3 linked regions of the Homo sapiens genome follow. The protein of the gene in region 2 purifies or fractionates together with the protein of the main gene of each other region. This does not show direct contact. Each region holds a gene or a part of one and is shown on either strand. Other genes may lie near its edges.

The links.
Region 1: the proteins of SULT4A1 (region 2) and PARVG purify together in Homo sapiens (affinity purification with mass spectrometry; 2 studies listed by BioGRID and IntAct, with this or other methods). This does not show direct contact.
Region 3: the proteins of SULT4A1 (region 2) and ERMN purify together in Homo sapiens (affinity purification with mass spectrometry; 2 studies listed by BioGRID and IntAct, with this or other methods). This does not show direct contact.

What each region holds. Positions count from the first base shown.
Region 1 is NC_000022.11:44,196,314-44,206,563, forward strand, and holds part of PARVG (gamma-parvin), read left to right. Parts: intron 1-33; coding exon 34-102; intron 103-2,028; coding exon of another isoform or gene 2,029-2,052; exon of another isoform or gene 2,053-2,254; intron 2,255-2,307; coding exon 2,308-2,409; intron 2,410-9,443; coding exon 9,444-9,516; intron 9,517-10,003; coding exon 10,004-10,113; 3' UTR 10,114-10,250. UniProt on the Homo sapiens protein: Plays a role with ILK in promoting the cell adhesion and spreading of leukocytes.
Region 2 is NC_000022.11:43,837,181-43,847,430, reverse strand, and holds part of SULT4A1 (sulfotransferase 4A1), read left to right. Parts: intron 1-5,498; coding exon 5,499-5,629; intron 5,630-7,405; coding exon 7,406-7,486; intron 7,487-8,437; coding exon 8,438-8,564; intron 8,565-10,250. UniProt on the Homo sapiens protein: Atypical sulfotransferase family member with very low affinity for 3'-phospho-5'-adenylyl sulfate (PAPS) and very low catalytic activity towards L-triiodothyronine, thyroxine, estrone, p-nitrophenol, 2-naphthylamine, and 2-beta-naphthol.
Region 3 is NC_000002.12:157,321,254-157,331,329, forward strand, and holds the start of ERMN (ermin), read right to left. Parts: upstream 4,572-10,076; 5' UTR 4,422-4,571; coding exon of another isoform or gene 4,390-4,421; coding exon 4,149-4,389; intron 3,510-4,148; coding exon 3,417-3,509; intron 539-3,416; coding exon 18-538; 3' UTR 1-17. UniProt on the Homo sapiens protein: Plays a role in cytoskeletal rearrangements during the late wrapping and/or compaction phases of myelinogenesis as well as in maintenance and stability of myelin sheath in the adult.

The sequences.
Region 1 (10,250 bases), 360 kb from region 2:
CTGTGTGCTAGGCCCTTGTTCTTCCCTGGTTAGGCCATCGTGAACTTTGTCAACCAGAAGCTGGACCGCCTGGGCCTGTCTGTGCAGAATCTGGACACCCAGGTAGGGACTGAGCTGCGGCGTCCCCAGGCAGGGCAGGGCCACTGGCCGTAGGAAGGAAAGAGGGTTCTGCAGGCCCTGGGAACCTGCTGTGTGGTGGGGGTTGCATCACCTCTTGGAGCCTTAGGGTCCCCCTCCCCGGTGGGACTGTTGCTGGCAGGCAGCAGTGGTCACCAGGGACATGGTGGGATCCCGGGGGTGGAGGTGTGGGAACACTTCACAAAGCTGGAGTCACCTCGGCTGTCACTGCTTCTCATTGTTATAATTTTATTTTATAATTAATCTCAGACTAGCTGATGCCAAGACTTGAAGCATATGAGTCTTCCCTGCGTGGTTGTGTTCGCCCAAACAGAATTTATTAGATTTGTCCCATGTGCCAGGCGTAGGTGACAGCGCAGCCCAGCCGTCTGCAGGCTCCATGTCTCTCACAAGCACCCTGAGGAGCCCAGCCCCTCCCCCGGCTGACTTAAGTCGAATTTTCCCAGGAGCAGGAGCAGAATCTCAGGGGGTCAGCACCCACCATGGGCTGTGGCTTTCCACAGTGAAGCTGTGTCCCTGTAGGCTTCCCACACTGCAGGGGAGCAGGGGGTGCACAGTAGCAGACCGGCTGCCAGCCCGGGGCCTGCAGAGTGGGCATGGAGTCTGCTGGATGCCAGTGGCCTGAATGGGACATGACGTAGGCATCTGGCCACCTGGGTTCTGCTGGGTGCTGGGGTCTGGGGTGGGGAGGGAGTCTGGTCCCAGATGGACCAGTTGGCTCATGAAGATCGTAGCCAGAGCTGCTGACCTCTCAGAGAGACTCTGGATGGGCATTGGCTGGGGAGGGAGGGGTTAATGTACTCCCATGCCTAGTAGCTAAAACCAATAAAGCCCTCACTATGTGCCAGTCCCAGGGCAAAATGCTTTCCATGTTAACTCATTGAATCCTCTCCATAATCCTCTGAAGTGGGAACTGTACTACCCCACTTACAGAGGAGGATGTTAAGGCACAGAGAGGTTAATTAACTTGTCTAAAGTCACACAGTGATAAGTAGTGGACCTGGGATTTGAACCCAGGCAGCTGGGGCCAGAGTTAGTGCTTATAACCACCTCACATGGTGGCCACGTGAGAAGTTTGTGTGTGATATGGTGTGGCAGCATGGCAGGGTGGAAGTATCACGCTCTGTAGCCAGACAGACACACATTTCCCTCCTGCCTCCACCACTTATGGGCCCTGGGGTCTGCTGAGAACCCTCCACATTTGCTGTGTGACCTTGGGTGAGTTACTGGACTTCTCTGAACCTCAGGCTCTTCTTCTTATAAAGTGGGTACAAGATAGCAACTTGGTAGAATTGTGAGTGATACATGAGCTGGTGAGCCCCACGTGTTTGGTATATTACCTGGCACGCTGCCGGCATGAAATAAGTGAGAGATTTGTAGTTTTATTATATTTTATGTGGGTATAAACAGGATGATTTCTGAGATTTACATTCTACCTGTTCTATCTGTATCTCTCCCTTGGTAAAATAATGGGTTTCAGAGACTCATGGCATGTGCAAAGGTGGTATTTAGAGACTGTTCAATAAAATGGGGTAAGGAAGTCCCTTGCATTTCAGTTGTATTACCAAGGAATAGCAGCAGAAAAGATTTCAGGCCCAAACTAATAACATCGAAGCAGACTTAATATGAGGAAATTCCATTAAGGGCTTCGAATGGCAGTTCCTTCCAATATCCCATCCTGTGTTTTGTATCTTTGAAGAGTCTCAATAGGATTATATTAACATATGATATGCTGGTGGCAGGGACGACAGCTTTATCTCTGAACATACAGACAGAACAGACAGAAATATTAATGTGGCAGCCAGCGAGATGAGCCTGGTGTGCTGCTCTCTGCCTTTCTCTGATGGAATAATTTTACACTTAACTCTGTTTTCCCCTGTGTTTCTGTAGCTTGTGGAAGAGCGTGCTGTTTAAAAACTGATATGAGGCTTTTCTGCAGTAAGTTTAGAAAGCACTCTTTTCACTGAGCATGTACTATATACCAGGCAGCCTGAAACCACTTTTTACCTGCAACCCTGTGAGGTCAGGCATGTCTTCCCCACTTCTCATCAAGGCACCAGAGGCTCAGAGAAGTTGTATGACTTCCTTAGGGCCACACAGCCTGTAAAAGACAGAGTGGGCTTCGCCAGGCTTCTTCCATGTGATTGTCTCCAGTTCCTTCCTTTGTAGTTTGCAGATGGGGTCATCTTACTCTTGCTGATTGGACAACTTGAAGGCTTCTTCCTGCACTTAAAGGAATTCTACCTCACTCCCAACTCTCCTGCAGAAATGGTAAGTTTTCCAAGGATTTTTCTTTATGGTCTACCTCTAGGTGAACAGATATACAGAACTGGCATGACCAGTCTGTTTATTCACTTCCAGGTGAAGTGAAGGGTGTAGGGGAAGCTTATTTGTCTATATGTCTGCCTATCCATCCATCCATCCATCCATCCACCTATTCACCTATCCATCCATCTACCCATCCATCCATCTACCCATCCATCCATCCACCCACCCATCCATCCATCCATCCATCCATCCATCCATCCATCCATCCATCATCTACCTATCTATCCATCCCCATCTACCCATTATCTACCTACCTGACCGCCTATTAGCCCTCCTGTTCACCTACCAAGCCACCCACCATCTATGCACCCATCCATTTAACTGCCTACCTGTCCATCCACCTAACTGCCTACCTGTCCATCCACCTACCTGCCTGTCCATGCACCTATCTTCCTGTCTGTTTATTCATCTACCCAGTCCATCCATCCATCCATCCACCCACCTACCTGCCTGCCTGTCTACCCACCCATAGGAAGTTTATCTATATGTCTGTCTGTCCATCCATTCATTCATCCATCCACTTGCCTACCGGTCCATTCACCTGCTTGTCCTGTCATGCATCCATCTGTTTGTCCTTCAATCCATCTTCCTGTTCTGTTTATTGATCCACCCAATTTACCCATACACTTGCCTGCCCATCCACCCACCTGCTCATCCACCCATCCCCTACCCACACGCCTGTTCCCCCATTCCCTGAGGGCCTGTTTAGTGCCAGGCCCTGAACTGCATGGGATGTTAAGTTGATCCAACATAGCTCTTGCTTTCAGGGAGCTCTCAGTCTGTGCCCACTGTTCTCCTAGTGACGTGTGGTCTTGCAGGGCCACAGTGAAACGTGTTGGTTCAGATGCCTGGGTCAGAGGAGGGGCCTGGAAGAATGAGGGCTTAGAATAATCTCAAGGAGTCAGGAAGGGCATTGCATCAGAGGGGAGCCGGGAAGTTGATCAGGGATTGGTTTGCAGAGTTATCAAGGAAGGGCTTGCAGAGGGGAGGGAATAGCATCAGCAAAGGCTCAGAATGTGGCAAGAACAGGAATGGGTCAGGGAGGTGTAGGTGCTTCACTCTGGCTAGAGGGGCTGGAAGGGTGGGGCCTGACCTGGGGGGATCAGCAGTTCCCACGTGGACCCTAGAGGCTGGTGGACTGGCTGGGAGCTGGCTGCCTGCTTCCAGGCATGAGGGCTGTGGCTTGACCTGGGGAAGAGGGATGAAGAGAGTGATGGAGGTGGGGTGAGAGGGCAGGTGAGCCTGCAAAGATGCAGCTCCCACCGCCTCTTCCCCAGGTACAGCCTTCAGTGCCCGCTGGCTAGTCCTGCCTCCGCCCCCGCCAGGCCCCTGTGGTGTGTGCCACCACTTCCTCCAGCTCCCTGGGCTCTCCCATCTCTGGGCTTTGCCACAAGCTGTTCCCTTCCCAGGAGCACCCTTCCTACCAGGTAGGCCTGGCCCATGAGAAGGGATTTTACTACTTTCCAAATAAGGAAAGAGAGGTCCACGGGCAGCCAAGGCTTACCCCGGGTCACTGCCAGGCAAGAGGCCTGAGTCTTGTGCTCTTCGCCACCAGCTCCCTGCCTGCCTGGACCTCAGGTTTTCTGTCTCTGAAAATGGGCTGACAATCCCTGCCCCCTACTCAGGCCACACAGGTAGTAAGAAAGAGTTTGGAGAACCATCGAGGAGAAAGCATTGAGGGACATGTGGTCCCTAGTATCCCCAGGCTTGCCTCTCACAGGAGGTGACATTGGAGGCGTGCATCCCAAAGGACAGGCTGGAGTGTTGGTGGCTGGTGGCGTGCCCAGGATCCCGGGCAGCCAGCTTATCTCCATCCATGCCAGGGTTCCCGTGGCCTGGGGCAGGAGGACCTCTTTATCTCTCTGCAGCAGTAGCTTTTTCTAAAGAGGTGAAGCAGGAGGCAGGGCCACATGCCCCGTCCCAGGGCCAGCCTCTGGGGCTGTTTCTGGGAGAGACAAAGGCTTCCATCCCTTTCACATGCTCAGGGCGTCCTTGGCCCTGGATCAGGCCTCTTGGCCTATCTGGGGCCCAGTAGCAGGTGAGGTCCCCCCTGGACCCCTACCAGACTCCCCCTCCACCTAGGCCCTTCTTCTAGGCCGCTCCCCTTAACCTTCCTGGACACCCACCCTTGTGCCTCTCCCCTGCTTCAAGTGGAGCACCCAACTGCCAAGCCCCATCTGCCTCCCCGACCACGTCCCCTCCTCCCTTCCTGCCGACTCCCAGCCACAGCCACAGCCACAGCCACATGACCTCTGGCCCCCTTCCAGCTCTCCAGGGCCTGGTCCTCCCCCATTCCCTCACATCCACGCAGGCTGTGCTCTCAGCCCAGCCTACCCTGGCTTTGCTTCCCACCTGCTTCCCTGGGCGGGCGGCCAGCTCTGCCCACCTTCTCAGCTCCTCTGCAGTCCCTCGGCGCTCTGTGGGGCCCTGTACCACAGTCCACACTCCCTTGGGGTTAGCTCCCTGCACTTTGCCTCTCCTGGCCCTCTCCCCACTCACCCTCCCTCCTTGCCCCTGTGAGAGCGGGGCAGGGCTGCATCTCCATTTTACAGAGGGGAGCCCAGGGCCCGAGAGGCTTACCCAGTACCACCCAGCTGCTCAATGGCAGCCTCACACCAGCACAGCCTGCCGCCCGCAGCCTGCCATGTCCCTCGCCCCCACGGGGATGCATCTTGAGTGGGTGTGGCCTCCACCTTCCCTGGAGGCCAGGTGCTCTGGACTTGGTTCCCAAGAGCTGGGATGTTGGGTCAGAGCAACGAGGCCGGGGCAGTCAGTGTCTACGGTCCTGGTGGTTGTGGCAGGCACGGTGCCTGCTGCTTCCTAGGTTCTTCCATTCGGAGGAGCTGCATCAGCCAGCCATTGCCACAAACGTGCTGCTTAACAAACCACCCGAAAACCTAGGGGCTGAAAACCATGCTCATTTCTTCCCACAGACCGGCAGGTCGGCTGAGTTTAGCTGCTAGAGGCTCAGCTAGGCTTTGTCACTCCTCCGAGGACTGGATAGGGATCAGGCTGTCGTGGCTGGGTGGCTCGGCTCTGTGCCACAGCCTGCCATGTTCCTTCTGGGACCAGCAGCTGGCCCGGGCACGCTTTCCTCCTGGCAATGGCAGACACATGAGAGACCAGGCAGAAGGCATGAGGCCCTGGCTCAGAATGGGCAGGCTGCCACTTCCATCGAAGCAGGCCCTGTGGCCTTGACAGTGACATGGGACAGCCCTGCAAAGTGTGTGGGTGCAGAATTGGGCCGATGGTGGGATCTCCCACGGGCAGTGTGGACGAATGTGCTAGCAAATCCTCATGTTGGGTCTTGGAGTTAGGAACTCTTCCCATCCCCACTTCCACAGAGGAAACAGTTGAGAGAGGCACAGAAGTCTGGCCCAGAGCACACAGTGAGTTAGGGTCCTCCCTGTTTCCCTCCTGTGGAGCCAATGTGAGTCTCTGGGAGATGGAGGGGTGGCAGGGCTCAGTGGGGTTGAAGCCAAGGCTGAGACTGGGGTCAGAGCCTGCCTCGGGAAGGCAAGGCACTGAAATGTGAGCGGTGAGGAGAGAAGGCGGAGGAAGGGGGCAGGCAGGACCACCTGCGGGCTGAGGGCCTGGGGCTCGGAACCCAGCTCAGAGCCACTCTGGGGTGCCCCTGGGCTGCAGGGCCTCTGCTCAATCTGTTGCACCATCCAAGCCCCAGTTACAAGACGGGAACAAACGTGCAGACTTCCATGTTGCTGTGTGCAGCCGCTTTGCTGAATCCACTGATTTTAGAACTTACTTCTGAATATGAGTCAGATTAGATGTGGGGGAAAAGCAGCAGCCTCTTAGCTCAGACTCCAAGAATGAATTTTTACAGCATATTGTGGGCAATCTCTGCTGCAGGAATGTGTAATCAAAATGCTGAAGAGGTCGTCAGCTGAGGAGGGCGGGAACACCAGCCCTTGCTGAAGGTGGGCCTCTGCGGAATTGTTATCTTGGCAGAGTAGCCTCTTGAAATTGGATTTCTCATTATCAGACCCTCTTTGCTGATGGTGTTTATGTGAGATAGTTATTCATTGTGGGCACGGAAGTTAAGGATGGAGGGAGAGAGGATCATTCGCTCCCAGAAATAAAATCCCCGGAGCCAGGAATCCTTGGCGTCCTTCCACGTTAAATTACTTTCCCCAGGAGGATTTGCACGTATCCTCCCGGGTTGTAACCTTCTCTCAGCTCCGTGGAAGGTGGTAGTTTTATCTTCATCTCAAGCCACACGCGGAAGAAAAATCTCTGGACAGAGCATCATGAGATAGCTCTGGAGCCAGGGTCAGCTCTTACTGGGGGATGATCTTTTGTTCAGATTGAGTGTCATTGAGGAAGAGTGTGACAAACAGAAGCAGATGTCATAATTTTCAGTGTCGATAGCAATTCCCAAAGCATAAGCTCTATGAGGGCAGGAGGTCTGGTCTGTTTTGAGCACTGGTTGTATGGCTAGCACATAGTAGATGACAAGTATTTTTTTAAATAAGTGAATGAACGAAGTGTTTCCAAAACATTGGTCCCAGGAGGTGTTCTGTGACAAATGGGTTCTATGAATAAATAACTTGGGGAAACATGTCTAGTCTTGAAGGTTCATGCGGCCCACCAACACATTCAAGGCTCTAATAAGTCCTGCAGTGAAGGACTTCCATAGTATTTTATTTAATCCAACAATTTCTAAAAACGTTTGGCCACAGATATCCCCTTTCCTGTCCATCTTAGATCACAGTTTGGGAGATGCTGGCTCGCTGAATGTATCAAAGGCGGAGCTTTGAGGCAGGAGAGCACAGTGCGGAGTCTGGAACCTCAGGTTCCTCAGGGTCTTGTTCTCACTCCGACATTTACTCTCCATGTAACTGCAAATAATATTCGTGATGAGAATGCGAACAATAGCAACAATTGCAACCCTAGTTTCCCAGAATATTCCAGTCTAGGAGGAAGAACTGGGGACACAGTGATGGGAACTTCCGGTGATGCTCTGGTCTGTCCACTCGGAGCTTCCCATCCATCTTGGTCTGGACAGTCTCAGAGTTTCACCCCGCATTGGCCCCTGCAGCATGCTGCAACATTGGTGCCGTGTGATAGCCTTTGTTTCGCTCTTGTCACCCAGGATGGAGTGCAGTGGTGCAATCTTGGCTCACTGCAACCTCCGCCTCCTGGGTTCAAGCAATTCTCCTGCCTCAGCCTCCCAAGTAGCTGGGATTACAGGCACGTGCCACCACACCCAGCTAATTTTTGTATTTTTAGTAGAGACAGGGTTTCACCATGTTGGCCAGGCTGGTCTCGAACTCCTGACCTCAGGTGATCTGCCCACTTTGGCCTCTCAAAGTGCTGGGATTACAGGAATGAGCCACCGTGCCTAGCCTGTTTCTTCTTGTTGGCTGACTACAGAGGAGCGGCCCTGCTGCTGCTGCTGGGCACCCTGCCCATACACTCCTTTCCATCTGGGACCCGCCCTCCATCTTCATGTCCCCACGTGGAGAAGGACTCTGCTCACCCACTTCCAGCTCCTATGCCTTCATCATCCTCACCTTCAAATCTTGCTTTGTGGCTTCAATTCTGTGTCCGTCATCACATTGGACGCACATGGCAGCCTTGGAGAGGAAGGCAGACAGGTGTATCATCCCCGTGACACAGATGAGGCACCTGAGGCCCAGCCAGGATGTGTGACTTGTCCGAGGTCAGACACTTAGTGGCAGGGATGGGGGTGGCAGTACACAGACATCCAAGCTAGATCCCAAGAGTCCTCTTGCTCGGGCCATCCAGCAGGTGGCTGGAGGTGGCCTGGGCCAGGCTGGCGTTTCTGGATGAGTCTTGCCTGGCCTTGCTCATCCACCGCTCGGCCAACCTGGCCTCTTGGCCCCTGGCGGGTTGCCATGGGAACTGCCCTGTCCTGGTGGGGCTGGTGTGGCCAGGCAGATAGGGAGGGAACGGGACCAGCACAGCTGACCCCCGGGCTGGGATGTCCACCCCGTCTAGTGGATCTACGGGTGGCTAAGACATTGAAGGGAGGACCTGTTTGAGGTCACAGTGAACCAGGAGTTCATCCCTCTTCACCCACACCAGGCTGCTGCCCTAAGGCAAAGGGCTGGGACCTACTCTGCTTGTAGACGAGGCCCAAGGGAGAAGCTAGAATGGAAAGGGAGGGGACCTACTGTGGGAGGGCCGGCAGGCTCCTGGGCTCTCACCATATCCTGTAGCAAGGCACAGGGGAACTGTGGTGAGCCCACTTTGCAGGGGAGCAAGGGGAGGCCCTGGGCAGGGACTAAGCTGAGCTCTGAATCACTGGGGGACTTGACTGATGCCCGGGCGCTCTCCACCCTAAAGGGAGCCATCTCTGAGACTGCACCCCAGGCAAGGGGTGGCGGAAAGGACAGCCACCTGGGTGGGGACCGCTCCAGTCTCTAGCCTGCTTTGCATGAGCATTGGAGCGGACAGACCTGGTTTGAGCGCTTTCTGTCTCGTGAGCTCCAGTGAGCCCCTTGGCTCCTCTGAGCCTTGATTTCCTCACTGTGCTTTGCCCTGGGAAACAGCTGTTCTCAAAGGTGCTCTGCCACCCCAGGCCCTTGCTCCTTTCCCTGGGTAGTTCTCCCTGCCTGGCGGGACTCACCACCAGGCTTCACCTCCACCAGGAAGCCTTCCCTGATCCCTATTGGGTATCCTCCTTGGCGATTGCCTTTTTCACGGGCAGTGGCCCCTGGACGCAAGCGTGTGCCCAGTGTGGTATAGCACCTGCTCAGAGTGGGGCCTGTGAGTGGCTGAGGAATGAGACATGGATTGCTTGTGTGACAGAGTGAGCTGTAGGGAGATGCTGGATGACCACGGATTGTGGTCGTGGTCAGGGATGCCCACCTTGGATGGGAGTTTAGGCTCATGATGGACATCACAGACAACAGGAAGGGCTTGGCACTTGGGACCCAAGGCCTGGCCTGGGGCTGCTGCTTGTGCCCACATCTGATAGGGCCTTGTCATCATAGCTGCACAACGTCACCCTGGCGCTGGAGCTGCTGAAGGACGAGGGCCTGCTCAGCTGCCCTGTCAGCCCTGAAGGTGAGTGCAAGGCAGATGCCCACACGGTGGCCAGCCCTGGGTGGCAGCCTTGTGCGAGAGCCACAGAACAGGGTGCAGGGCATTGGGGGATGAGCACGCATTGGCAGAGTCCTCTTGCCTGGCAGGGGTGGAGAATGGGCGCTTGCCAAGGTTTCTTGGGAGGGGGCACTGCAGCCCCAGGGGAAGAGGTTCTGGGGAGGGGGAGACCAAGGTCTCTGGGGACAGGTTGTCCAGAGAAGCCAGACCTTGAGGAGTTGCTGTGTTGGGGGCACCACAGGAGCATTCAGAGGAGGACTGGCCAGGAGGAGGAGGCAGTCACGCAGCAGGCGCGGGACCCAGGCCTGGAGTGACCAGCTGTCCTGGCTTCCAGGGATTCTCCTGGGATTAGCACTGAAATCCTGAATGCCAGGAAACCTTGACCACATCGGGACAGTCGGTCACTGCCACCCAGGCCTGACTGGCTGCCCTGCCCTCCTTTGGCCCGCAGATATCGTGAACAAGGATGCCAAGAGCACACTGAGGGTGCTCTATGGTCTGTTCTGCAAGCACACGCAGAAGGCACACAGGGACAGGACGCCCCATGGAGCCCCGAATTGACCCTCACTGCCTCCAAAGCCCAGAGCCTGCCTGTCAGCCCAGCTGGAGGGCCCGAGGCTGCAGGGTGTCCTCCCACAGTCCCGCTGTTTCCTGTGCATTCGTGACCCGCTTCCCTCCCACCCTGTCTCCTGTCTCCA
Region 2 (10,250 bases):
TGGGTGCCACAGCTTGGCGTCTGGCAGAGGGCCTTGCAGAGCTAGGGCTGTCTTCAAAGCTGGGTTTGATCTTTGGTTCCAAGTGCTTAGAAGTGTGCCTGGAATGGGGTAAGTGACCAGATAGTATAATGACCATTTTTCTTTGATCATGTTATCACATCTTGCCAGCTGGCTTTATGCCCTAGGAAGGCCGGGGCCTGTTCCCTGCGTGTTTCGTGGTGTGTGTTCTCGGTGCCCCTCCCTCCCTGATGCCCACGTTGACCTGCTGTTGAATTCTCCTGGAAGCTGGAAAACGTAAGGTCAGGAGGTGTTCAACCAGGAAATTGATGTGGCAGGCTGGAGAGAAGGGCCACGGGGACAGGGCCGGGTGGACCTGACGAGTCAAGAGCTTCCTTTGGCTGATATTCTGGCATAAATATTTAATGGGGGTGAGGACGGGACTTGTGGAACTGAAGTGGCCGATATTGATGTAAGAAGACTTTAACGTGCAGAGAAGGTCTGTCTGGGTCGTTGGCCTGCGGGGCTGCACGGGTGGGGAACGTGAAAAATAGGTGATGAAAATGTCACTGGGAGAGGCCCATTTCAGGGACGCTGCCCACAGTCTGATTTCTAAGGACAAAGACCCCCTCACTGCAGCTGTCCTGAGCTGCTGGGTGGATGGTCCTCACCAGGAGGAACAGGCAAGGCAGCCACACCCTGGTTCTATAACCCTTGGCACATTTTGGCCTTAGCCTCGTCTGCCATGAGGATGGTGGTACTTCCTACTCAGGTTGGTGGGAGAGTCCATGGGCTGAGAAGTTCTTTGTGTGTATTGAAAAGAGCTTGTTTTCCATCACCAAGCCAGACCACTTCCTTCCTTCAGTGCCTTTGCTCCAAAGCTCCCTCCTCCAGGAAGTCTTCCTTGATCAACACATCCCCTTCTGATTACTCAGTGTCTATGCAGCAACCAGCGTTTGTCGGTCCACTCAGGAAATATGAATTGAGCATGGCCACATGCTGGCTCTCCTGGTGCAGCAAAGAACAAGACAAAACAGCCTCTGTCCTTAAGGTGGAAAGAGGAGAGAGCATGTAAAAGAATTTGCAGGCTTTTTCTGGGCAGGTAGATAGCACATTGGAATCGCATGACAGGGCGAGGGACGGGAGTTAGTCCCACAGCTAGTGAAGGAGACTGTGCTGACTGAGCGGCATCTGAGCAGGCGCAGGGAGGAGTCAGGGAGTGAGGAGGCTCCAGGCAGGGACACCAGTGTCGGCAGCCTGGGGAAGGGCCGGTTGGGCTCAGAGGCTGGAGGGAGCTCAGGGGAGAGCCAGGTGGTGAGGGAGTGGAACATGGTGAAGGCCTTGCGTTGACTCTGTGGGAGGCAGAGCTGCCTGACGGCGGCAGTGGACAGTGGTGGAGTCTGACTTCCATGTTAAAGCCACAGTTTTGGCCGCTGGGTTGAAAACAGGTAGAATAGTGGTCCCCAACCTTTTTGGCACCAGGGAGTGGTTTTGCGGAAGACAGTTTTTCCATGGACCCAGGTGGTGGGTGATGGGGATGGTTTCAGGATGAAACTGCTCCACCTCAGATCATCGGGGTTTAGTTAGATTCTCATGAGGACCACATAGCCCAGATCCCTCGCAGGTGCAGTTCACAATAGAGTTTGTGCTCCTATGAGAATCTCGTGTTCCCGCTGATCTGACAGGAGGCAGAGCTCAGGCTGGAATGCTTTCCCGCCCAGTGCTCGCCTCCTCCTGTGCGTCTCGGTTCGGAACAGGCCACAGACCCGTGGCCTGGGGGTTGGGGACCCCTGGACTAGAAGGCAGAGTGAGCTGGGTGGCAGCAGAGAGCCAGGGAGGAGCCCTCGTAGGAAGCAGTTCAGGTGTGAGGACGCAGTGTCACAGGGGGAGGGTCAGCTCTGGACACACCCGACGGCAGGGTCGGCGGGGCTCACTGAGGCAAGGACAGAGGAGAGGAGCCGGGTGAGCCACAGTGAGGCCACCATCCGGCCTGAGCCTCTGTCAGCTGGAGGGGCTGCTTGCTGAGACGGGCTGCGGATGCTGCGGAGGAGACAGCCTTGGATGCTGCCCCCAGAGCTGGCTGGGTCCCACTGAGGCGCTGGGCAGCGGGTGAGGTACTGGAGTTGGTGGGCATGTGCCCCGGAGGCTGATGTGTGGAGGGGTGGACCTGGGTTTGGCCTGGGGGCAGGGGACCAGGGCTGCACTCCGGGCTGTCACCACGTTCAGGGCGGGGAGATGAGGAGCCAGTGGCAGAAACTGGAGCCGCCGATATGAAGGGACCACAGTGGGTTAAGCTGTGCCCGTTTCTTCTGGGAGGTCAGACAAGGTGATGACTGAGAATCACTGGGGACCTGGAGCTGTTTTTGGGCCTGGGAATAGAGGCTGGAGAAGGCGCAGAGGGCCGCCTTTCTCCCTGGGAGTTACCTTTGGTCCCGGCACACTTCTGGTTGGGTGTCCTGCCTGGCCCTAGGGTCCTCGAATGGGACTCTGCACTCAAGGCACCAGTGCATGTGGTCAGCCCCATGTGTGGTCCAGGCGGGGCCCCGCTTCCTCCTGCCTGCACCAGGTGTGGAGCCGGTCACAGTGCCTGCTCCCCTGGGCCGTAGCAGGGAGGAGAGGGCCTGTCCCGTGCATCCCAGGGTGTGCACTGCAGGTGATCCCGGCCATCAGAAAAGGCCGACTTGAAGGGGCAGGGGCTCTGAGACAGCTGTGCCTAGGCTGAGGCTGGGAGGAGCATACAGGCAGAGCGGAGAGTGCTGTGGTTGGCCCTGCCCAGGAGGGTGCAGCCTGGACCCCGCACCAGGTGTGCAGAGCTCAGAGGGCCTCAGTAAATGATTGAATGCCTGGGCCTGAGTGTGTGAACATTGGGAAGCTACGGAAGGGTTTTGGGCTGGAGGCCGTCGGACCTGAGTGCGAAATGTGCTGTTTGTCCTAGAGGGACGGTTCCCAGACCCAGGCAGGAGGCCTGGCTCAGCCGCGTGGCTGATTTGTGAGGAGGGAGAATTGGTCCATAGGTCTCTAGCCCTGTGGGCAGCTGTGGTCCTGTGAGTGAGTGCCAGGGTGTCCTCAGCACACACGAGCTCCCCCGCAGGCCTCTCCCTGCCTTTAATGGCACGGCACGCTGGGCTTGCCCAGGCTCTTCCCGTTGGCCACATCTCCCCACAGTCTTAGGAGAGGAGGTTATGCTGACCAGGCCACTGGCGGGCGGAGGTGATTTGTCTCTTTTTAATTGAATTATATCTTACATGTGCGTATCAGTTGGAGAAAAGCCCTCAAACCGCTTTTCCTCTGCTCTCACACAAGAGTCAACACAGAGGCCTCCTGTGGCGGACAGGCTGGGGATTTCTCCCCGCCAGCAAGCAGGCACTCAGTCCTGCAGCAGCACCAGCTGGATGTCCCCCAGTCCAGTTCAATTCCAGCACTGCCCACCTGGAGACAGCACGAGATCCCACGGGGCGAGGTCTCAGTCCCACAAGACTGCCCCCAGTTCTGATGCCAACCACAAGCCCCAGGTTGTTTTGCCTGTGTGTCTCACCCACTGGCTATAAATTGGGGTTCGCACACCCTCCCTGCCCACGTTTGACTAATTTGCCAGAGCGGCTCACAGAACTCAGGGCAACACTGACATTTCCTGGTTTATTATAAAGGATGTTACAAAGGCTTCTGATGAATACCAGAGGAAGAGACGTCTGTGGAGGATGGAGGAGGGTACGGAGCTTCCATGCCCTCTCTGGGCAAGCCACCCTCCAGGAACCCCCATGTGTTCAGCTCTTTGGAAGCTCCTCAAAGCCTGTCCTCTTGGGCCTTTTATGGAACCCTCATTGGCTAGGCATGGTGGAAGCATGTAGAAATGGGACTGGACAAAAGGGCTGTGAGCCCAACACTGTCAGTCGGAGTGGGGAGCCCAGGAAGGCCTGCCTGTGCGACATTCCTTCCTCCCCTTCTGAACTGGGGGTCTCATGACCCACACAGTCAGAAAAGGCAGGTCAGAGAATTTTTCTTTTTGTTTTTTGAGATAGATTCTCACTCTGTTGCCCAGGCTGGAGTGCAGTGGTGCAGTCACAGCTCACTGCAGCCTCTACCTCCTGGGTTCAAGCGATCCTCTCACCTAAGCCTCTTGAGTAGCTGGCACTACAGATGTATGCCACTATGCCCAGCTAATGTTTTTATTTTTTATTTTTTGTAGGGACAATGTCTTGCTATATTGCGCAGGCTGGTCTCGAACTTCTGGCCTCAAGCAGTCCTCCCGGTTTGGCCTCCCATAGTGCTGGGATTATAGGCATGAGTAACTGTGCCCAGCCCAGAGAGTTTCTTCATAGCCAGCTCCAAGACAGAAAGGCGGGGGAAGATTCAAGTATATTTTCAGTTTGTATGGCCTGCCTTGGGGAGAAAAAGGAACAGGTGAAAGGGGTGGGGGCAGGAGAAGGTCAGAGAGAGAGAGAGAGAGAGAGAGAGAGATGCTGTTTACTGAGACCTGCTTCTAAGGCCTGGAGTGGTCCAATATTATGACAAAAGACTGTAATAAGGGCTGGGGGGATAATGAGCCAGGAGCCATAGATGGAAACCAGCACATATCATAATGTAGCATGCTTCCATGTAATTCCCACCAGACCCAGTTAATAGCTCTAGACCCCGGAATCGCCTTTGTGTCTTCTCTGAATCAGTAACCAACCCAAAATATAAACACTGTTCTCACTTCTGTCACTATAGTTGAGTTTTGCCCATCCTTGAACCTCATGCCAATGGGACATACAGGATTGTACCCTGGAGCGCCTTGGGGTGGGAGGACTCCGTCACATCCTGTCTGTGGGGCTTGGCCATGCTGTGTCTGCAGTTCCGTCACATCCTATCTGTGGGGCTTGGCCGTGCTATGTCTGCAGTTCATTCTTTTTTGTTGCTGTGTAGTACACCATGGTGACTGTCACAACTTACTCATTCTATTGCTGATGGGTATTTGTGTTTCCAAGTGACTTTATGAATGATGTGGCCAAGACTGTTCTAGAACCTGCGTACTGGTGGACAAGCACTGGCTTCCCTTGGGTGTCTCCCCAGGATAGTTCCTGGATCATGGGCTATGTGTATATAGCTTCAGTAGATACTGGGCAGACGTCATTTCCTCATCTTGGCTAGCGGGTCATTCCCCCGACCCATCATTCCTGCGTAAACTGCCAAGTTCAGCCTCAGGTTGGGCCGAGTCACCCACCTGTTACAGCCCCTGAGCCACTTCCATAACAGGGGCTGGGTTCTGTTCTGTTCTGTTCTCCTAACAGCCCTGTGAAGCATCCTGGCCCCTCTGAGAATCAGAGCCGACTGGCCCATGACCCAGCACGGGGGATTCAGGCTGAGACCGTGCGGGGCGCGCTCCTCTTCCCAGACTCAGTCGCCCTGGGCCCCACCTGGGGCTCTTGAGCCCCTTCTTGGGCAGCAGGTGTTGACCCGAGCACAGGGCCGGGCGCGTGGGCCTCCTCTGAGCACCCCGCGCTGGGGCTTCTCCCCTCCAGGCACCAGCTTGCTGCAGGAGGTGGTCTACTTGGTGAGCCAGGGCGCTGACCCCGATGAGATCGGCTTGATGAACATCGACGAGCAGCTCCCGGTCCTGGAGTACCCACAGCCGGGCCTGGACATCATCAAGGTACCCAGGGCCAGCAGCACCTGTCCCAGCACCTCTTTAGGGTATTTCTACCGTTACACCCTGATGATTGACAGTTGCTCCTGGGGGCTCTGTGGATTAGGGGAGAGCAGATAGCCCCAGATAGCCAGGGGAGAAGCTGGCAGGCCTGAGCTGGCAGTGACCTGGAACCCGATGAGGGCGTGGGTGACACATCAGCGTCAGGGAGTCTGTGAAGTGGAAAGGAAGTCAATGCCTGGGGGGCACAGGGCTGAGGGGCCATTTGTGGGGAGCAGGCCCTGGGCCTCCCCCTCGCTTTCCCCTGGGGGCCCTCCTCTGAGGGAGCTGGGTAGGATGTGTTTGCATCAAATATTTGGTATCAAGAATGAATAAATGTTACCCCAGAGCCCTGCTCCCCGCACCCCTCAGACACACCCACAGGCACCCCCACCCCGTCCGCTGCACCTCTTTAGTTCCAGCCTCACACCTGAATGGGCCAGAACTGCAGCCTCCACCACACCTGTCCTCCTCCCTCTGGAGCAGCATTCCAAAACCCAGCTCTGAGAGTGCCATCCCACCCTGTGTCATGCTCTGAGAGTGCCATCCCTCCCCATGGCACAAGACCCCTGTGGCCCTCCAGGGCCCCTGTCTGCACCCCAGCCTCTCGGGCCTGAACGGCCATTTTGCTCTCCTTGTCCGTGCGGAACCATCTGGGAGTCGTTCCGTACTGCCGTGCCGAGGGCCACCGCGTTCAAGGCACTGCTCTTGGCATTGGGGGCAGCAGTGACTGACAGCATCAGGCCCGGCCTTTCAGCCCAGGAAGCCATAGTAGCTAGCCAGCGATCAGCGCTGGGAGGGGAGCAGATCAGGGGGGGACCAGCAGTCTCCTCTGGGGATGTCTGAGGCAGGTCCTGAAAGAGGAGAGGAGCAGAGGGACCCGTGAGCAAAGACCCCACGGCACGAGGGGCCTGGCCTTCCAGAGCAGTAGGCAAGCCTGGGGGTTGCAGGCAACGGTTCCGGGCTCTTTGGCTTCATGAGGGCTGGGCCCATTCCTAGGGCAGCTGGGAAGACGGGCTCTGAGCAGAGAGCACGGTGCTGGCTGCTTTACAGGACAACCCTGGCTGCTGATGGGAAGGCCCGAGGGGCAGGTGGAAGCAGTGAGCGCATCAGGCCAGGTTGCTGTGCGGTCCAGCGCCAGCCTGGCAGCACCCACTGGGGCTGGTGCCTCCTGCTGCCTCTGCTGCCCTCCGACGCCACTCCAAGCCGGGGCAGTAGCTCCCAGGCCCCCTGAGCAGATCCTGTGGCTGTGGCTATGATGGGTGGACTCCCCAGGCCAAAGTCAAGGACCCTTGTCTCTACCGCCAGGGTCCAGCCGGGGTGTGCTCATGTCTCCAATCTTTGTCTCAGGTGACAAGGGAGGCTGTCCTGGCTGGGTCCGAGACTCTCTCCAGGACAGGAGACCAGGGCATGACAGCCTTGCCTCCTCTTGCTCTGACCCCTCCCTACTCCTGGCCTCACCTTTCCCTCTGACCCCTACCGTTCTCCCCTGGCCCCCACCCCTTCCCTCGTCCTCTGGTCCCCCTGCTCCTGGCCTTACCCCTCCCTCTGGCCTCACCCCTCCCTCTTACCTGACGCTCTCCTGACCCCTCCGCTACCCTAGACCCGCCGTTCCCTCTGATAACTCCACTTCCCCTGAACCCCACCCCTTCCTTCCTCCTCTGGCCCCCTTCCCCTTGGCCCCACTCCTCCCCTTGGTCTCACCCTTTCCTCTGACCTGCCTCTCCCTCTGACTCCACGCAGGAACTGACCTCTCCCCGCCTCATCAAGAGCCACCTGCCCTACCGCTTTCTGCCCTCTGACCTCCACAATGGAGACTCCAAGGTAAGCTGGCACCTCCTCTGCCTCCCGAGATGAGTCCCCACCAAGAGGAGCCCAAGGTCCCTGTGCAATACACATGCAGGTCCCTGGCACTTACCTGGCCTTGGGGGCTGTCTTCCCAAGGAGCCCACACGTGAAGATCCCTTCTGAGGTGGTCTTGGGTCATGCGTCTCTAGCATTTTACCCAAGTTTTTAACGACGGGTTGGTTTTTACCTCACAGTCAAACATGGCTGTGGCCAGCCTAATCCAAAGCAGGCCAGCAGGCGTGTACCTGCTTTGGGCCGAATTCTCTTTGTTTTTCAATTGCATCAAATGCCAAGGCCTGTGGGGTTTTTTTGTTTGTTTGTTTTTTTGTTTTTGAGACGGAGTCTTAGTCTGTCGCCCAGGCTGGAGTGCAGTGGCATGGCTCACTGCAACCTCTGCCTCCCTGGTTCAAGCGATTCTCCTGCCTCAGCCTCCTGAGTAGCTGGGACTACAGGCATGTGCCACCACACCCGGCTAATTTTTCTATTTTTGGTAGAGACAGGGTTTCACCATGTTGGTCAGGCTGGTCTTGAACTACTGACCTCAGGTGATCTACCCACCTCGGCCTCCCAAAGTGCTGGGATTACAGATGCGAGCCACCGCACCCGGCCAGAGGCCTGTGTTCTTACCACCAGGATCAGGGTTGTAAGTTTTTTGTCTTCTGCAGATTTTAAAGTAGTTCTAGAGGACAGAAATAAAATGCTCAAGTAATTTTCCTGGCCAGCTCTACTGCATGGACAGGGCACCTTTCTGCTGAAACAGCGAAGCAGCAGCACCCAGCAGCCGTGCACATGGGCCCCAGCTGGACGCTGGAAGCAGGTGTTGGTTTGTGAGGTGCACCAGCAGGTTCAGGGAGGCTGGCCTGTGTCGGGGCAGCCCTGCCTGGGAGGGAAGGAGACACGGACTCATCCTGCTCCTGTCACCCACAGGTCATCTATATGGCTCGCAACCCCAAGGATCTGGTGGTGTCTTATTATCAGTTCCACCGCTCTCTGCGGACCATGAGCTACCGAGGCACCTTTCAAGAATTCTGCCGGAGGTTTATGAATGATAAGCGTGAGTGTTGCAGCCTGGCGGCATGTTAGAACCGGAGCCGTCTGTTGTCGTGGACGGCCTGGCAGGTGCTGGGTGCTTCCCCGACACGGTCTCCAGTTCTGACAGTGACCATGTAGGTCAGGCCCGCGGTCACTTTACAGATGAAGACACTGAGGCCGAGGGTCGTGAACGTGGCCGAGATCCTAGAGCTGGTGTGTGTCAGAGCAGGTCCATCTGAACCCAGAGCCCTTCTCTTCTACCACACTGTCGGGGTGTCTGAGAAGTTCCCCAGTTAAAACATCCATCCTTCCTACCTGGGTTTCAAACAGGGAGAGAATGAAAACAGTAAAAATGGAGGCCCAGGTATCACTACTGTTAGTGATAGGGCCTGGAGTGGAGACTGGAGCTAAGTGTGACAGGCATGGGCCTTTGGCTGAACCTCAGGCACAGGCAAGCTACTGGGGCAGGGCACACTTGTGCCCGCTGGGAGGAGGACAGCCGGGCTGAACCTCAGGCACAGGCAAGCCTCCGGGGCAGGGCACACTTGTGCCCGCAGGGAGGAGGACAGCCGGGCCGAGAGTGCCATGTGCTGTTCTCTGGCTTCCATTCCAGCCCCTGAGGAGGAGCGAGGCTGGGTTCCACCCTGCCCTGCTCTCAAGGAAGGCGGGACCAGGCCTCTTGTCTTGGTCCCACTCGCTCCCAGTCCTTACTCTCTTGCCCCGCTGGGCCACCTTTCCCTTGGGAGTGGTGGCAGAGCTCCTCAGTGCAGTTCTGTTCCTGCCTTCCTGAGGGGGCTCCCCATGGCCAGCCATGGCTTTGGGAGGTCCTGGGACAGAAAGTGGGCAGTGTAGGGTGTGCAGGCAGAGGAGCTTTGAAATGTGTCATAATAGCTGCACTTTAATTAAATCTACACTGAGACTCTTCCCTACCCAAGGCTGAAAATACACTTTCTGTTTTATTTCCCAACGGAAGTGATGCTGAGCCGCATTGTTCAGTGTGGCTTATCGGGGGCTCTGCAGGGGGCTTATGTGACAGGATGAGGATGAATCATGTAGCAGAGATCCTGGAACGTAATGCCCTCGAGTTTAAGTGGAACTTAGGGCAGTGGACCTAGAGCTGCTGCCAGGCCTGGTTGAAGGGGACCTCTTGGCGGGGCGGTGCAGGGCGCCACAGGCTGACTCTGTTGCTTGCAGTTTGAAAACCCACGAGGGCCTCAAAGCCCTGGGATGATTCTGTTTCCTGCCCTTGAGCCTCTGCTTCCACTGTGCCTGCTGAGAAGTGGCCCTGCCTGCAAGGGGTAGGAGGCCCCAGACCGCACCCTGAAGCCCCCTGAGCCTGCTCTGGGCCTTCTGTCCAGCCCCTCTTCCCATGGCCTCTTGGCCCTGGCACCTGCTCTTGTGGTCCACCAGGCATTTGGAGCAACCCACTCATGGACTTCTGAAGCTGTTTCCTAGGGTCCAGCATGGACTCTGCTCTCTGCAGAGCATGGGGACAACACCCACATTCAGACCAGCACGTGGAAGAGGCTACAAACATCTTGCTCAGGCCAGAGCAGTTAACAGTTCTCTTAATATAGGCCTCTCCATGTCACCACAGTCACAGACCCATCCTCCACTGAGTGCAAGGTCCCACACACGTGCCTTGGTCCCAGCAAACCCTGTAGACAGGCCCACTCAGCACCCCTGTGCTCCGTCCTTCATTGTCACT
Region 3 (10,076 bases), on a different chromosome or scaffold from region 2:
TCTCAGTTCCAGTTAGTTTATAAATGCATCATAGACTCGAATTCATCAATTCTTTGCTTGGTATTTCCCTTTCTGATTTTCCGATAGGATATTGTATTGTATCTGGAATAAGCATTTCTGGAGATATCACTCTTCTTCCCTAAGGTTGGCTGCTCATCAGGTGTCACAGCTTGGGAACTGGCACTGCTCAGTGGGGAGTCCTCACTTGCATCACCTTCCTCTTTAAATTGAGAAACCTCTTCATGTTTTTTCTTAAATTCTATCACTCGAACTTCATCTTCATCATTATTGCAATTATCATCATCATCATCATCAATTTCTTCATCCCAAACCTTCTGCTCCTCATCATGTTTAGAATGTAACATGTCAGCTTGGCTAGGTTTTCGAAATCCCAGCCATTCAATTTCAGCTGCCTGGTGACCTTTGTTCTTCCTGTCCTCATCTTCTTCCTCTTTGAGAGGCTGCTCAGTAATCCTCTCCTTCTGTCTTCTTATTTCCTGGTTACTGCCACTCAGAGGAATCTTCTCCCACTGATGCCCTGTAGCAAAATCAATTGGTAGATGAGATGTGTAGAGATTCCAAAATACCCAGCCATTAGTCTGTTATTCTCCAAATAATTTTTCTTGCTAATCACTTCCCAACACATGTTTTATGGGATATGATTCTGTGGGTTACCAATATGTTTTGCACAAACAGGCTACACAGCCAAATTAATTTCAAAAACACTGCATTAAATACAGTTAAATAAGCATCTTCAGAATTTTTACAAGCCTTTGAAATGCTAACGAGTATTGTAAATCTGTAAGAAAGTCAACAACCTAACTTCATTTGTCTATGGAACTCTGTTGTGGACTACTGTATTTAGTGAGACTGGTGTTCCCTGAGACACACTTAAAAAAAAAAATTCTTGTCTAGCCAGTCACAACTGGATACGTGCACATGTAAAAGGAAATGTTTGGACTTATCTTTTTCTCACACATACACACACACACGCACACACACACACACACACACACACACCTCAAGGAAAATTAGAAAAATACTTCAGAAAGAAAAAAATGCTCGTTTCCAATACTGAAAATGATGACTGTCCATGTCTGGTCACTTTTCAAACAGCTAGATCATACCAACATACCCTCAACAATATTTATTGAATATGGTAAGAATTAATTATAAGGAAGCTGAGGTTGTTCTCTGAGCCTTCAGCCCTGCAAGGCTTCTGTGGGAAGTTTCAGTCTGTGGTGTACACAACTCAGAAATCTGTCTGGGTTACACCCCTTGTCAGGCCTGAGTTCACCATTTTCTTTTGACACCGTGAGAGTCTATAAGTAAGGTGAGAGGCAATGTTCCTCTTTGTCTTTTTCCTCCACAATATTCTACTCTCTCCGAAAGATGTTCACAATTCCATTTTCATCCAAGGTGTTCAGTTCTCTTATTTTTTTGTTGTTTTCTCACTCTAGGGAATACATAGTAAACTTACAGAGATAGAAGTAAAGATGGGTGATCACCCTAATTTGTTACACACAGCTGCTATCAGGTCGCTAGTGTCCCGTCAATGTTCCTAACATTATCCATAAATACACATTAGAATGTTTGCCATAATCTTATGCTTTGTTTTATTTTGTTTTCCACAAGAACCAAAGTAAGTGATATTTTGTTTATATTCATGACTCAGCCATGAGATTGTCACATATAAAATTACTCCTTGAATTTAAATTATAGTTTTTCCTCAATATTTTTAGCATCTTTATATGTTTTAATCCAGTAACATTCTTTTTGAAGATTTTATAGCTGTTTGCCACTGTGAAGATAAAACACACCAAAATCTGTGCCTCTATTATGGAGGAAAAACATACTCCATCAAACAGGAAAGGATTCATTGAGGGAAAACTTAACCAGCGAGACCATCTAGCTGAAAACTACAGCCTGCTTTCATTCTCCATTTGATGAAAATGAAAGATCTAGACAACTGTTACCTGCAATGGACTCCTGATCAAACATTTGAAAGGGGCTCTAGATGATAGGAGGTTGAGATTCTGCCTCTGAGAACTTGTTACATTGGAAGCAGAATAATTAGGGCAAAGAGGTTATTAAGTTCATATTGTGAAGTCTTAAGTCTTAAAAATTATCTCTGGTAATGTGACAGCTTGACACTGTCTATTGCTTGCTACATATTTCCTTAAGTGTTGCTACACTGCTAAGCAGACATAGTATGAGAGGTGTTCAGGCAAAGGGAGCAGATGTAGGAAATAGCCAATCACATTCCTGTCCTCCTTGACATCTACTATTTTATGTGATGTTCTAATATTTCAACCAATAGTCTCTTCAATATTTTGCCTGTTAAAGTCCTAACAAAGCTAAATTGGTTAGGTTTAGCAAGCTGACTTCAATTTGACATAAGATGTGTATGGCTGCAAGAGAGGAAAGAAATGATTAATTAATAGATTTTATCCTACACTTTATTTGGGAACTGTTTAAATGTAGGTGTCTTAGAAAAATCTAAAGGATTTTGTGTCTCTTAGTCTATTAAGTTTATTTAAAATTTAACATAATCACTTCAATGTTCTTTTTATTCTTCCATTTTCTTAAAGAACACAATTAAAATTAACTTTATCACCCTGTCTTTCTTTGACATGAAATAGTTAACAATTTTGTATTTACATTAGAGGCCTATAAAGTAAATCATTTCGTGAGATTACTTTAAACTGTATGTTGGCCGGGCACAGTGGCTCACGCCTGTAACCCCAGCACTTTGGGAGGCCAAGGCAGGTGGATCAACTGAGGTCAGGAGTTCAAGACCAGCCTGGCCAACATGGTGAAACTCCGTCTCTACTAAAAATACACACACACACACACACACACACACAAAATAGCTGGGCGTGGTGTCAGGTGCCTGTAATCCCAGTTACTCAGGAAGCTGAGGCAGGAGAATCGCTTGAACCCTGGAGACAGAGGTTGCAGTCTGCCGAGATTGCACCATTGCACTCCAGCCTGGGCAACAAGAGTGACACTCCGTCTCAAAAAAAAAAAAAAAAGCTGTATGTTAATTGTAGACTTTTAGGAAAGACCCGTTTTTGAAACATTTACCTTTCACAAGGTGCACACACAGATTTGGACACACCAAATCAAAAAGTAGGGTTGACTCAGTGGACTAACTTAAGAGATAGACATCACGTTGGTATGCCAATCAGCTATGCCATTCCATGCAGCCTCAGCCTTGAACAGTCTGGAATGCTTTATAAGGTGGAACCCACAGATAAGTTAAGACTCTCTTATCTGCCTACAGCAGCTTTGAAAATTTGAAGTCATTGCCTGGATTGCTTTGTCAACCCCACGCTCATGCAACATTTCATGGAAAGACTGTCATCCATACTCAGTCAAACAATTTCTGTGTACAAAACTGTAGTTCTTGTTACCTTCTCTGAATGTCATTTCATCAGCACTAGTTTCTTGGAGAGAAAGATCTGTGATAGCCTTATGAACAATAAAGAGTTTCTCTTCTGGGTTTTCTAGGAAAAAAATATAAAATCAGTATTTTAACATTTAAAATATTTATTGTTCAACAGTTAATAAGTTATCAATTTAAACTCTAGGTAGAAGTCTTTAATTTTAAATCTGATCATTAAAATTTACTATTTCACTCTTTGGATTCATTCTTTATCAATTCAATTTATTTACTTAATGATCACTTTATTGATTGTAATCTCTCCTTTAATATTTATATAAGATATATATATAAGATATAGAACCATAAATTCAGAGAACTTCAGTTATATTTAGAAGGAAATTTTAACATTTTGAATTCTCTTTGTTCAAATAATATGGGGCTGTCCATAATCATAATAAATACAGTAGTTAACATTTAGCCAATACTTACCCTAGACTTGTAGTTATTATTATTATTCCGCCTTCTTCTAGTGAAAAAAACTCAGGCTTCGGGAGACAGAAAGTTGTCTGGGGTCACAGCTGTCAAATAGACCAGCCTGGATTTCACCAGAGGCAGAGGTTTAGTCCTTATACTATGCGTAGTAGAATAAAGGGCTACATTTTTGGGGTGTCCAGCTCATTTCGATAATAGTTTATCAAAAAAATCCAGGGTAAATTTATAAGTCAAAACAAGAAAATTAAGGAGAAGGGAAACACTTTACCTTTTAGCATTTTGTCCTCCATGGATGAGTTGAGCAGCATGTTCCCTTGTAATTTTCTTCTTTCCTCCTGACTTCCTTTGGTGAGTGCACCTTCCAGACTGGGTTCTACCCTGTAGTGTGGCAGGGGGCTGTCCACATCAGTCAATTCCTCACTGATTTTAGTGATTGTTTGTTGACCGTTTTCAGGTGGTTTATCCCCATTACACTCAGCCTGGGTAAATGTAGCCGGAACATCTGTCATGATGTGCGGTTGAATCCGATCTGGAGAGAGAGCTTTAGGGAAACTGAGTGAGTAGATCCTTGATAAGATACCTGCTCTTGCCTTCAAGTCCTATAGTTCCAACTCCTACTCTAAGAGCACAAATTATTCACTTTAGTACATAATAACAAGGTTCTTTTCCTAAAAGTATCCAGACAGAGATTAGAGCAAAAGCAAGAGGATTTGTCAGATCTGCCAGGAGCCATGAGCAAGAATCCAGCCAATCACCACCTTCTTTGTTGCTTGCCAGTTCCCTGGCAGAGTTAAAGGCATCCTTTTGATTTACATAAACAAACAATCTGAAGCAATCAGGCTTTTGTGTTGGCATGTAGAGAGGGACTTTCAGCTTGTCAGTCCCCCTCTGGGAACAGAGATTTTTGTCCCTTTTCATAATGGCCCATTGTAATTTTCCCTGTAACAGGAGCCACAATTGTCCCACAGCTTTAATCCAGAGAGAATGACCACCTTGAGGCATATTAGTTCTGTGTAACCAGCTTAACATTTCCAAACAGATTTTGTTCAAGTAAAACCTCAGCTATTTTGTAAAGGACAATGGCATTGTTTCTTATTTATTAAAAAATAAAACAGCTTATGGAAAAAACCTATAAACAGGACAACTTTACTGTAAATGGTTCTGGCTGCAGATTTGATGGTGTGCTTCCAGCAGGCTGGAGAAGGGACCTATGAAATAAACAAATTCTACCAACTTGCTAATACCAAAAGTTTTATAATTTCAGAGTAATTTACTTAGTCTATAGCTTCTTATCCTCTAGTTTATGTCTGCTGAAGCCCAGCCGATCCTTTAAAACCCTAATAAAATTATCGCCATGAAGGTTTCTCCTCCCCCAATCAGAATTACAATCCTTTCTATTCCATACTGATATTACACAATGCTGGTAAAATGTAGAGGACCAATGCAATCTGCCCTTGGGAGAAACAGGTGATTATGTTAAATGACTGCTACTGACCACCCCTTCCTTTTTAAATCTTTTTCTTTTTTGGATTTCTCATAGTACAAAATGGTTCCAGAGCCTTTGCCCACACAGCTCCTTCTATGTGAAATGCCCTTCTCTTCCTCAAGCCCAAGCCCTGGGCTGACCAGCTTCCCTAAGTTCTGTTTTTAAGCTTAAATATCATCTCCTTAACTACACTATCTCTAACCGCCAGGATTAGGACAGGACTCTGTTACACATTGTCTTTGCCCTTCAGAGTATTCTTCATGGTTGTAACTAAATAAGCAACTGCACAATTATCTCTGTAATGTCTGTTTCACCAACTGCAAACTAAGTTTCATCTGGCGAGGGGCCAGTTTAACTTGCTTACATGTGTCCCCAGCACTTAGCATCTGGCTTGGAATAGTAGCACGCAATAAAAATAATTATATATATACACATATATACACAAATAATTATATATATACACATACATAACAAGAATTATATTATATATATAATATATACAATAAATTTTATCCCCAAGAGAATAAATTTCAGATCATTTTTAAAGAGAAGAAGAATAGGTGTTGAAGAGTTGTAGTAAGCATATCACCTTTAAAAGTGTGTCTAGGGCTGAGCCCATTCAGGTCTATATCAGGGACAACACCTCACTCTTGTATAATCCCCTCTCCCTTGTCCTTGGAAGACATCTCTAATAGATCCTAGATCTCCCTCCCGCGTCATCACCAGCTGTTCTCTAGTCAGCACTCTAATTCTATGTTTGTTTGATTGTTTAACTGTTTTAACAAACGCTCATATCACACTTATTATGTGCAAGCTACTGTCCTAATTGACTCATAAATAGTAATACACTTACTCTTCATAACAGTCTTCTGAGGTAGGTGCTGTTGTTATCTCCATTTTATAGACTAGAAAAATGAAGTGCAGAGAGATTAAGGAGTTCAGCTAGTAAGGTCACAGAGCCAGCAAGCCTACTGATGAGAGTTTGCAGCACAGATGAAGCTAAGCGCCATCCCTGGCCTGTGTGCAGATGTTTCCTTGGACCAGAGATCCCACAGGGGTTCGGCATTAGCACCTTGGCAGTAGAGACAGTTGTGGCCAGGAGAGGGCAGCAGAGAGCCTAAGGCAGTCTCAAGACCTGCCCCAGAGACACCCTGCAGCTGCTGAGGATGATGTTCTGGGAGCGTCCTCCCAAGAAATTCAACTACAAGCTTACTGTTGAGAAGATATTGAGTGGAATCATATGGGAGAATGCAGAAACTAAGACCAAGCTTAGGAACAAATGGGGACATACTAGATTGTGAGATCCTTAGGGCAGGAAGTGGCACTAATTCAACCAAATGCCCTGCGATAAACACAGGAGTACAGAAATACATTAGCTCCAAAGGTCATGCCTCCAATCACTCCGTTCCCTCGGGGCTGCCAAGTACCTCAATCCAGGGACATAGCAAAGTTGAGACAGTTCAGATTCATTGTCTCTCCTACTCCTAGATTTCTATTACCCCATGGCAACGGGCACCTCATACCCATAGCCTAGCTTTTATGGGAATTCGTGTCTTTATTTTTGGATTGCCTTCTTTCTAAAACCATGCTGTGACATTTTTTATGGCCTTAAAATTATTTCAGTTTTGGAAAGATAGAGAAATGATCCAGAGTTCTGTCATCCTTGGCTAACCATGTGTTTACATTTATTTAAAAACATGCTTTTATGCTGCCCTAGGGAATAATGGAGGTCGGGTAAATGGTTTGTAACGTGTATTATTTTTTCCTACAAGTAGACGGCAACATGAGACACATTTAGCAACAAGATGAGTCTATCCAACTACTAGATAAAACATAGGCTATTTTGTTCATAAAGAGGTAAGTTGTCTCCCATTATTTGTAACAACCTATGACTTAGAAAGTATGTTAGAATTTGCACTATCATCCTTACTTCAAATACAATTGCAGAATGTTCACTGTATGAAACATGACTGTTTTATTTTATGTAGTTTACTGGATCTTGTGGCTTTTTCCTTAGAAGAATTTCGCTCTTGTCACCTAGGCTGGAGTACAGTGGCACAATCTCGGCTCACTGCAACCTCTGCCTCCCAGGTTCAAGAGATTCTCCTGCCTCAGCCTCCTGAGTAGCTGGGATTACAGGCATGCGCCTTGATGCCTGGCTAATTTTTGTATTTTTAGTAGCGGGGAGGATTTCTCCATGTTGGTCAGGCTGGTCTCGAACTCCTGGCCTCAGGTGATCCACCCGCCTTGGCCTCCCAAAGTGCTGGGATTACAGGCATAAAGCACTACACCTGGCCCCTAGTTATTATTCTTAATGCTAAAGGACATTGTACAAATGTAACCATTATTAAATCTAAAGCCAAAAAAAAGGTAATGAAAAGATTTTCATATAAGAATATAAAGAATCAAAATAAAATTATGTAAATATTCACTTTCCATTTGTCCAATACCAAATGCTTAATGTTAAGGCTATCTTAGGTCCAGAATCAGGATTTGGGGAAAAGTCATAAAATCTTGATCTTTAATCTTAATCATATGTGAAAAGCCAAGCCACAAGCTAATGTTATGGCTAAGAGATGGTCACAGAGCACTGAATAAAAACAAGAAATACATTTAAAAGAAAAATGTTGATCCTGGCAGCTTGAAGCCAATCTTAAACAAACATTGACTTACATAGTTGGGACAGGGGTATTGTTTCAATTAGGGTTGGAAGGGAAAGGCAGAACCACTAAGAGATGGAGCAATCCATCTATCAATCGATCAATTGATTGATCAATCAGAAGGGATTTGACTTTACACAATGGTGGGTGCCAGTGAAGCTGCCTCTATATGTCTGCTGTTGCATTTGATGCTGGAGCCTGAAGTCTGCAGGGCAGGAAGTTGGGAAGGGATGATGGATAGAAACTTAAAGGGGGAGAGCAAGAACAAACTGGGTTCCCAGGTATAAGCTGGACACACGGGGGCAAACTGAAACCCGCGTCGGCTCTCAGTGCCTCTGACCTTAGCGGTTGGAATGCCCTCCCAAAGAAGCCCGGCCCAGGATCATAGAAGCTGGAGGAAGATCCAGGGAGGTGGAACAGTTGCAGGCCCAGCTGCTGCCCATGCACCAGGTGAGGCAGCAGACGGGCAGCAGTGTGTGCCAGCTACAAAATAGCTGCTTCACTTCCGCCCCACCAAGCTCACAGAACAATGTTTACTTTGGCTCACGTTTCTTTTTCAGGAATCATTCAGGAAAGAAAATTCAGGGAAATTTAGTTTAGCCTAGTCAGACTGACATACAACAGTCACAATCCTACCAATAACCCATAGAATTTTCTATAAGGAATAGAGCAATGACCCAGGGAATGTGCAACCCTAAACAAGCCTGAAGAGACAGGATCATCCCAATTGGTTCACTTCAGGGATTAAAATTCCAAATTGAAGGGCCGTCCCAGCTAAAGTGAACTGTTACAGAAATACAGACTATCATAACACAACAAAATCAATCAACAGCCATATATTTTATTTCACAAAACAATAATTGCCTGCCACCTGGTATAAATCAGATTAAATTGATTATCGTGTGCCATGTTCATGCTTTCCTTTTACTTTTATGCCAAGAATGGAATAATGGCTGCCATTCTAATGATACAGTTTCCTGAAGTAAATAATGGTTTATCCCAGGAAACCAATACTGAAGTCTATGGGTAGCTCATGAGTATTAAGGGTTTAATGTAACAGAATTTCAAAATTTAACTGCATCTTACAAGAAGCATGCTTTTCAATGTTGGAGGCAGGGGAGGGGATAATTATCTGTTCTCCCTCTAAATATAAAATATTTCTTACACCTTAGGAAAGGTATATCTCTGTGGCTCTAGCATCTAGAGCCTGGCCTTCTAGTGATCCAGTGAATATCATTTTAAAGAAAAGCACTGGAAGAAACAGGCTGAGTATTTGGTGAGGATTAGAGAAGAGTGTGGCCCTGAACATAGGACCCTGTGGCCAACATGGGCTGAAGTGGAGGCTGGGAGGGAGAGTGCTGACAGTTAAGAGTCCCCTTCAAATAGAGGACAAATGAGCATTCTCATCAGTGACCCTCATAGGGTAAAGAGGAGAGATTCAGCCTGCTCCTGTGTGACCTTGGGCAAGTGTACAAATCAGGCATGTTTGGGTTAGAGATTACAGAAACCTAATTCAAAGAATCATAAACTGAATTCAATAGCTAATTTGACTGGTAAATTCAGAATTGGCTTTGTACTTGTTTGGATCCAAAGATTTAAACAAGGTCAGGCTCCATGGTTCACAACTGTAATCCCAACACTTTGGGAGGCCAAGGTGGGTGGATCACCTGAGGTCAGGAGTTCAAGACCAGCCTGGCCAACATGATAAAACCCCACCTCTACTAAAAATACAAAATTTAGCTGGGAGTGGTGGCACGTGCCTGTAATTCCAACTACTCAGGAGGCTGAGAGGGGAGAATAGCTTGAACCTGGGTGGTAGAGGTTGCAGTGAGCTGAGATTGTGTCACTGCACTCCAGCCTGGGCAACAGAGTGAGACTCCATCTCAAAACAAAACAAAAACAAAGATTTAAACAATGTACCAGGTAACCAGTCTCTTTTGATCACAAGGAAAGTGCATATTAGGAGGTACCTGGGTGGATCTGAGGGTCCCTAATGCCTCTAGCTGACTGTTGTGGGCTAAATGATGACCACCCTCAAAGATGTCCACAT